Linked DNA regions of Homo sapiens: region 1 is linked to region 2. A link means that fine-mapping ties the variant in region 2 to the expression of a gene that starts in the linked region. Tissue or cell type: thyroid. Region 2 holds a variant in brackets; the other region holds the start of a gene. All regions are shown on one strand. Distances are from middle to middle. Region 1 holds the start of ALCAM (activated leukocyte cell adhesion molecule). Region 2 overlaps ALCAM (activated leukocyte cell adhesion molecule).

Evidence for each region. PIP is the estimated chance that this variant, and not a neighbour inherited with it, causes the effect.
Region 1: ALCAM starts here. The variant in region 2 is fine-mapped to the expression of ALCAM in thyroid (GTEx, PIP above 0.99).

Annotation. Positions count from the first base shown.
Region 1 is chr3:105,364,913-105,369,308 of GRCh38, forward strand. ALCAM (activated leukocyte cell adhesion molecule) reads left to right here and starts at 1,997. Exons shown (of 16, transcript NM_001627.4): 1 at 1,997-2,569. The coding sequence starts at 2,497. RefSeq lists silencers at 1,942-2,041, 2,372-2,491 and enhancers at 3,522-3,681, 4,018-4,396.
Region 2 is chr3:105,482,340-105,486,735 of GRCh38, forward strand. The region is part of intron 1 of ALCAM (activated leukocyte cell adhesion molecule); the gene reads left to right. Among named protein-coding and RNA genes, the nearest start is that of ALCAM, 120 kb to the left of the region's middle. The variant C/T (reference allele first, on the strand shown) is at 2,510.

The DNA of each region.
Region 1 (4,396 bases), 120 kb before region 2:
CACTATTATCACTTTTTACAAGAAAGGAGACTGAAGCTTAAAGAGGTTAAGTGAGTTGACCAAGATCATACAGTTAGTGTCAGAGCCCAAATCAGTCTTCCTTTTGCAAATCTACCTTTAAGCAATTATGCTGTATTAACTCCCATCGTAAAATAGAGGAGATCAGATAGAGCGTTCGCGGACCTAGGTTAAATATATTGTCAGGTCGATTTATTCTAATACACCCCACTTACAACCACAGTGAAAAAGAAAACAATTCCCTAAAGCAATTCTACAGGAGTCCATGGAAATGCTAGCATTTCAGCCAAGCTTAGCTCAAGGAATATAGAGTTAAAAGGCATTTGCCTCCTAGCGATAGCCTTCCTGTTGATTCATAAGATGCAAATGAAATGTTAATGTTTAAACCAAGTGGGAGAAACTACTTATTTTGAGAGGAAAAAAATATGGTATAAAAGCTCTACTCTAGAATATTGTTAATGTAAGGAGAACTGGAAGAACAGGACAAGCAGGCTTTTGAGAAAAATCACAGCTGAAGATAGGGCTTAATAGTTTAGAGCACTAAAAGATAAACAATTTTAAAAATCAGTGTGTGAGTGTGTGTGTGTGTGTGTGTGTCTGTGTGTTGCGAGTCTCCAATCTCGCTGGTAACTCGCAGTTTTCTGATGAAAGTGCAGTATGTAACGATTACTAGTTGGCATCCTCTGCTGGAGACCAGTCTCACAAAAGGGTGACCCTGTGATGCACGAAAGGCTATTTAATGCCCCAGCGAAGTGCTTCAGGGACCAAGATTTTATTATTCTTTGGTGATGAGAGTTGTGATCCTGCATCCCTGATTTAGAGCCACTTAGGGCTCCGACAGCTCCACCCCGGTGTTCTAGAGGAAAATCTTCCTTCATGCTCTCTGCCTGATTTGAAAGCAACACAGCTTCCCGATGTTCCTCCTGGGAGGTGGTTCAATCTTTAGAAATTGCCTAAGAAGCCTGTCCATCTGCTGGAGTGCCTGGCTTTCGGGAACGGACCAAGACGGACTTGGCTTTTAATCTGAAATAATTTGAGGATTTTCTGTCTATAACTTAAAATCACCGCTTAACTCAAAGTAAAAAAGTGACACGCTCTCTAGAGGGCTTTTGTAGACATTGGGAAAATCCGTATGACGAAGTACGGTTTAGAAATTCCGGATTTAATTTCCCCCGGGAAAAGCAAATATCTTCTGTTGGTACCGGGCAGTCGACTCACGTAGTCTTCCTTTAAAACCAAGTCTATGCCAGCCGGGTGTGAGGGGAGTGGTGGGGGTGAGCAGGGGGAGGAGAGAGATTCGAAAAGTACAGGAGGAATCAGTCCAGTACAGGGGTTGCCCCTGCCAACAAGTAGCTATTCCTGTTAACTCCCAAGAAGCAAGTTTCCACCTTTGCCACTTCCTCCTGCCCTTTCCTTTCCTTTTCCCTTCACTCCCGCTCTTGGACCCAAGGTTCGCTCCCCACCGCCACCGCCCTGCCCCACTATTCTCTTTACAGGACAGAAGGCTGCAGCAGCACGGCGGAGAAAAATCTCTGAGGAATGAGTCAGTGGGATGGGCGTATGGGTGGAGGGAGAGGGCAGTCGATTTTTAAACCTCAGCGAGGGTGGGTGGGCAGTTGGAAGCCAGAGGCCTTATCACTGGGGCGCTGCAACATCACAGAAAGTGTTAGTCCCAGGGCTCTCCCTGGCGCGCGCGGCTCCTGTGCTTGCTTCTTATTGGCGGACCTGGCCCTGGGGGCGGAGCCGCGGTGAAGCACCGCTCATCCGGGCTCCAGGACCGGGGCACGCGGTTCTCCCTGATCCCGGAGCTGGGCTCAGGGCTCGGACTCAGTCCTGCAGCGCCTCTAGGCTGCGGATCCGCGCTTCAACCACCTGCTTTGCGCTGCGTCCGGGGAAGTGGGGAGGAGACGGGAGGGAGGGAGGAGGCGGGGAGAGGAGGAAAGAGGCAGCTTACACACGCCTTCCAGTCCCTCTACTCAGAGCAGCCCGGAGACCGCTGCCGCCGCTGCCGCTGCTACCACCGCTGCCACCTGAGGAGACCCGCCGCCCCCCCGTCGCCGCCTCCTGCGAGTCCTTCTTAGCACCTGGCGTTTCATGCACATTGCCACTGCCATTATTATTATCATTCCAATACAAGGAAAATAAAAGAAGATACCAGCGAAAAGAACCGCTTACACCTTTCCGAATTACTCAAGTGTCTCCTGGAAACAGAGGGTCGTTGTCCCCGGAGGAGCAGCCGAAGGGCCCGTGGGCTGGTGTTGACCGGGAGGGAGGAGGAGTTGGGGGCATTGCGTGGTGGAAAGTTGCGTGCGGCAGAGAACCGAAGGTGCAGCGCCACAGCCCAGGGGACGGTGTGTCTGGGAGAAGACGCTGCCCCTGCGTCGGGACCCGCCAGCGCGCGGGCACCGCGGGGCCCGGGACGACGCCCCCTCCTGCGGCGTGGACTCCGTCAGTGGCCCACCAAGAAGGAGGAGGAATATGGAATCCAAGGGGGCCAGTTCCTGCCGTCTGCTCTTCTGCCTCTTGATCTCCGCCACCGTCTTCAGGCCAGGTGAGCAAGGGCCTGGGAGCAGCCCCAGACAGACGTGGGCCTGGAGCAGTTTCCTAGGTCCCCGTCCCAGCCTCGCACCCCCGAGGCAGTGCGCCCAGGCGCGTGGTGGAGGTAAGGGGACCGCTGTCCTGGCACAGAGCTGTCCCCGGGCTCGGTCACCTGTGCCGCACGTTTGGGCTTGGCTGGTTAGCTCAAGTTTGGGCATCAAGCTGGGGAAACTGGGTGAATCTCCAGGAACTTGGTGCTCCGGGGTGGGCAGGATTCGCCTGACGCTCTCCCCTTGTCCCTGCGGCTCCCAGCTAGGCGGCGGACTCTTGCCCTCTGACAGTTCCTCCTGTCTCTGGGTATCCAAGTCCACGTCACTGCGCCCCGAGCAGTTTTTCTTTCGCTTAGTTCTCGGATGAAATAACTGCCGGCACTTTTTCGTGATAAATCCCCTAGTAACTTCCCCTTGGTGAGCCGAGGAAGGGATGGGAGGGGTAGAGAAGGAGAGGACTTTAATCACCTCCCCCCGCCCCCCTTGCGAAACCTGCTAAAGCTTAAAATCGTGGTTTCAACGTTACCCCCTGCGGTCCCCGTCCATTGTCTGGGCGGGTGGTGAGTGAAAGGGTGACCGCAGGCAGATAACACAGCCAGAACAGGAATTAGTAGGTAGGCCTGGGAGACACCTCAGTGAGAGGTTTGTGAATTTCCAGGACCTGCTCATAGAGCCTCAGTTCTCAGTTCTGTACTGAGTCTTGGAAGAGAGAGAGAGAGAGAGAGAGAGAGAGAGAGAGAGAGAGAAAAGGCAAAATTCCCAACAACTAAAATATCTCTCGGGAAATCCCTTTCCACACCCTCGGGGACGTCCCCTGGCCCTGGTATCCTCAGGCCCGCCTGGCGGCTGACACAAGTTGTTCTAACAGGGTATTCCGTGCGCTCACAGTTGCCTGACAGAGCAGCAGGTTCCTTTGCTCCCCTAAACTGAAAATTTAGGGGATTTTTTTTTCTTTGAAGTTTTTTTTTTCTATCCCTGCGTAGACAGTTGCCAGTTAAACTCCTACTTCCTGGTATTTTGGCCTGTTTGTTCTTAGCTTTTTCTTTAGCTTTTATCAAAGAAAAATCTCACTTCCTTTTATCCGTGCACATCCCTTCAGCTGTCGGCAAGCTCAGGTCACAGAAGAGGTTTGAAAGCCTCTGAATCTCTCCCAGGAACTGGCGGGGAGAGGGGTTTGGGGGCCAGAGCCTGAGGAAGAGATTACAAGTGTTTGCGAGCTGCTGCTGCTGCTGCCGTTGCTGTGTGTGTGGGCGGGAGGAGTGCCCTCTCCAGATCTCTTTATTAAAGTTACATTTCTGGGTGAGGTAATGAGCTCACCTGATGTTTCTGAGGCTGAGGGAAAAAAAAGGCGTCTGCGTTCTCTGACAAATCTCGGGCTCTGGGGCGGGGACTGTGAAACCATAGTTCAACCGGATTTAAAGCAGGTGTCCTAGTGTAACAACGCTGGGGAGGTAGGTGGAAAGGCGAGACCCCCTTGGGCCTGGCACAGTGTGGATTTCACTTTTTCGAGATTCCACTGTCCGATGGAGGAAAGGACACTTTGGAGCCAGGGAATGAGCCAAGAAGGGAGGACAAGGGTGATGTCGGTTTGTAACATGCAAACGTCCACACGCCCACAGTTGGTTTTCCGATTAACCCCCTCGAGACTTGGAGAATGTAATCTCACCCTCGTCCACACCCCTGACACAGGCACATAACCAGTTTCCTTTTCGGTGCCGTCACAGGCGGGCCACGTCGCAGGATAGGTTTTTCTACACATTTAACTGCTAAAAGGGGGAAAGTTCCGCTTT
Region 2 (4,396 bases):
GGCCTCATGTGATCTGCATAACTTGGACTCCAACTGCTGAGATAACAGGTGTGAACCACCATTCCTGGCCCTTAATTCATATTTTAAAAGAAAAATTTCAAAAATCTCAAGTAAGAGCTTTTTTTGTTTCCAGAGAATATATTAGGAAAATTTGAATTATTATTTTTACTCTCATTATTTTAGTATAGTTTGTCCATTTCAGAACAAATAAATTATATAAAAACCACCAGACAATTCTGTTCATTTTGAATGATACCACATGTCTGAGACCAGGCCAGAACTGGAACACACCACACAAGAAGGGTAAGATTGAAGCTTATCCTATAGCTTTTGATAAAGTGTATTTATTCAGCCTATACTTTATATTAAAACACAACATCCATTAGAATTATGTTGTTCTATAAATGTTATATTAAAAAGCAATGTAATTTGCTAGTTAATTGTTTCAGGATTTGTGATTGAAATCACAAATTTCAGAATTTGTGGAGTCGTCTTTCTCTGTGAGTCACTAATTTTACAAGACAGCAATCTGAGGTGCTTTAGAAAAAAATCATACCCAAGAACATGTAAGTAGTCATGGCTACCTGAGGAGAAGGGAAGCCAGACTGGTTTTCATAGAAACAACTAAATTTCCCTTTGTCCCCAGCCAATTTCCCCCCTGATTCTCAATCTAAGGGGATTAGTAGAAAACCAACTAGATTATAAATGAGTAAATGAATTTAGATTTTGCCTAGGCTTTCATTTTTCAGAAAGATTTCTTTGACTTCCAACTTGGGGAAATTTACCTCTCATATATGCCTACTGCTGGAAGATAGCAGGCATCATGTATTATTTCTTTGTCTCTCTTCATTTATTACAATAAAGTAAATGAGGGGAGAAGCTATATCTTAGTCATCGTTTACTCATTTCTGTCCTATTTATTCATCAATAAATATTTGCAGAGTGCCTACTATGTGTTAGGCATTAAAGTGAGCTGTGGTAAAGAGAGGAAAGGGTGGGAGGACAGATACCAGATATCAGTAAAAGAAAGATATTAGGAGAACTTTGTGATTGATTAGATGTGGGTGGCTGAGAGTAGTAGCGAAACCCAGGGTGACTCCCAAGTGCCCAATTTTGTTGCTTGTATAGATGGTCAAATTAGTGACCTAAAGAAAATGTACGGAGAAGCTTATGGAAGATAGGGTAAGAAAAATAAGAAAACAATTAGTTCTGTTTGTGCCTGTAAAATGTCTGTGAAACATCCAGGTGAAAAAGATTTGTGAGCAATTGCAAATGTGGGGCTAGATCATAGGAGTGTTGCCAAAGCTGGATATGCAGTCCTTAAAAGATCCCTCTAAAAAAGGATGTGGTTGGTATAATCTAAACAACTGCAGTCAGAGAAAGAGAAGGATCATGCAGGAGATCAAGATACCATGGAGATCAAACAAGGAATGTGTGTTATAGAACACATGTAAACAGAAGTTGCATTGGGGTGAAAAGGGATGAGATGAACTACACCTAATAATGAACAATTTTTATCAGATTTATAGTTTGCTACGTATAGAATACCAGAGCTTAACGTGCCTGGGATTATACAAAACCCAATTAAGTGACAAGTACTTTTTAACAACTTACCTGTTCTTAGACAAGTCTTTTATTGTCTCCTTCTCATGTTTTTTCTTTATTTGTAAAAATGAAGATATTTGATAAAATGATCAGAAAGCTGTCGCCTAACATTAATATATTACATACAGTATTAGAGGTATAAAGGAAAGCGTTCTTGGTCAGAAGCAATTTCCTAACAAAAGTAGACAAATATAGCCATTGTATGTCAAATACATATTATATATAAGAAAATCAGCCATGTAAGGAAATACTGAAATAGTACAACTAGGAAAGTTACAAAGTAACTACTACCATTTTTGCTCTACTGGATGAATTACTTTTGTTACATATACTTTTTATATATAATTTTAGTTATATATATATATTTATTTATATAAACTGGGAAATCAAATCAAGAATATCTATGATCCGGATATCTGTGATATTCCCTTTCACCAGCTACATCTAAATGGCATGCTGCCATACCCAGGATTTTAAAGAAAAAAATGTTTAAATCTCAATAATTTAATTTCAGATGACTGAAAGGTCAGTGAATCAAATTATTACTAGTCAATATTAATACATATGGTCATGGGAGGAAATAGTCTATTGATTGATTTCTACACACCTAATTGAAAAATATTTACCAAAACTCAAGCTTTCTGAGCCAAAGTCAATGTGGATGACTTTTGGAATGTCCTTGGTACCATGAAGATCTAAGGATATTAATACATAGTAATACGAGGGTCAGGCCAATCAAAGGAGACGACAGAAGAGGAATCATTAACATCCAAAGGCATTTTTACACTGTGATAATTATCCCCATTTGCTCAGGTTAATATGCTTTCAATGGAAACATGTGGAATAAACAGCTGTCATGGACATGTGCCACCAGAAGAAAAGCTCTTCTCAGCCAGAAAAACAA[C/T]TGGGAAGTTAGTGAACCAGTACATGCTCATACCTTAGGAAAGCAAATACTTTTCACTGAGCCCATAGACAAAATTAAAGTCTGGAAGAATTCTTTTTTTTTGGTGGGGGATAGGAAATAATACAAATCTTGAAAACATTCTAAAATATTCAGATAGGTTCCATAAATATTTGTTCAAAAATTAAAATAGAATAACCTTTTATTCATTGTTCAATTTTTATCTATCAAATCTCGAATTATGAAAACAAACTACACTATGCTTTACATAAGGGAATAGAAATAAAAGTAGGCATAGTCTGGTAATACCAAATCTTGCATCCTTAATGCATCATGAAAAGATGCTTGTGGATGTTTTGTCCAAATGGCTGGCATCAACACCCACATACAAACTGCTCCTGCTCAAAAAAATGCCCTTGTTTTTCTCTGAGTACAGCATTGATATACATTTGGAAGAAATCTTATTATAGTCCTGAAAGAAAGCTAGTAGATAATCTAGTTTATTTTTGAGATTCCAGACAGAACTACATTGTGTGTGTGTGTGTGTGTGTGCGCGCACATCCACATGTGTGTGACAGAGAGAAAGAGTCCACTGCATAACCAAAAAATATGAATTTGGTTCCTAGAATGCAAAAAAATATATCTAACCAGTACATTTTAACCCAGAAATGTTCAATTTAAGCATTAGGTCTATAATAATAAGTGGAAACGTTTGATCAACTATCATTTATTCATTTATTTAATAAATATACACATAGTAAATATTTATTACTATTATCATCTGTGTTATTGTATGAAAATCATTATGTTAATGAAATTATATATTTACATACTTCGGTTTTAGATTAAGCAATATGATATTGCCTGTAAGTGATCATTTTTACCTCAAAAATGACTGTTTCATATTTTTCTGCCTAGTATTTGATTTAATCACTGAATAATGATATATGTTAATTCAACAGCTTGTAAGGTCAATTTAGTAAAAGCACAAATTTATATGAATGAAAATAATGGCCTGCAAAGTTAAGATTTGACTCTGCTGTAGAAATGGACACAAATTACATCAATTTACCAAAAAGAATAGTTCTTACAATCAGAGTTAAGCAAGTACTTGCTCCTCTTGGTGGTTTACCAACTGCCAAAATAACAGCAAGATCAGATTTCTTCATAGAAAGTTATTGGTATGAAACTTTTTGGATTAAACAGTTGTTTCTGTAACTATTAACTAAATCATTAAAAGGGTTAGCCTATTTATAGTAACCTTGAACCTTTTTAAATTTAATGTTTTCAGATGAAAGCATTGATCCTTCCATGCTTCATAAAATGGCATCCCACTGGGCAGTGTCATTAGTGATAGTCCTACTGGGAGAGACACCCGTCCAAATTATTGAATGAAGAGCCTAATATAGTGAAAGATACTTCTAAAGTGCAGCTTGATGTTTTAAAAATGCTTTCATACATAATGGATGCCTACTGTACTCAGCTATTTGAGGTGTTGTAGCACTTACTGAATTTTCACATAAATTGCTGCTCTCTGAATAAGACTATTGTACCAGTTTATAAGGCTTGATATATTTTCTACCTTCCAAATGGGCATTCAACGAACTTAAATTTTATCTTTATATTGTACTTAACTGTAACTCAGTAATTTTTCTTAAAGGAGGAGAACAAATTGTACAATACAGTCCATATTAGAAGGAATTAGCTTTTGTTTTTAAAAAGAAGAGAATGTGTTTTATATCATTTGACATTTTCAACTTATAAATTTTAGCAAGCATGCATCCATTATAATTACACTGGTTTTTTACTATGTAATTTACCACAGAACAGAATACATATACAGACAGTTAAATTAATTCATTAGATAGGGGACATATAGGAAAGTCAGCT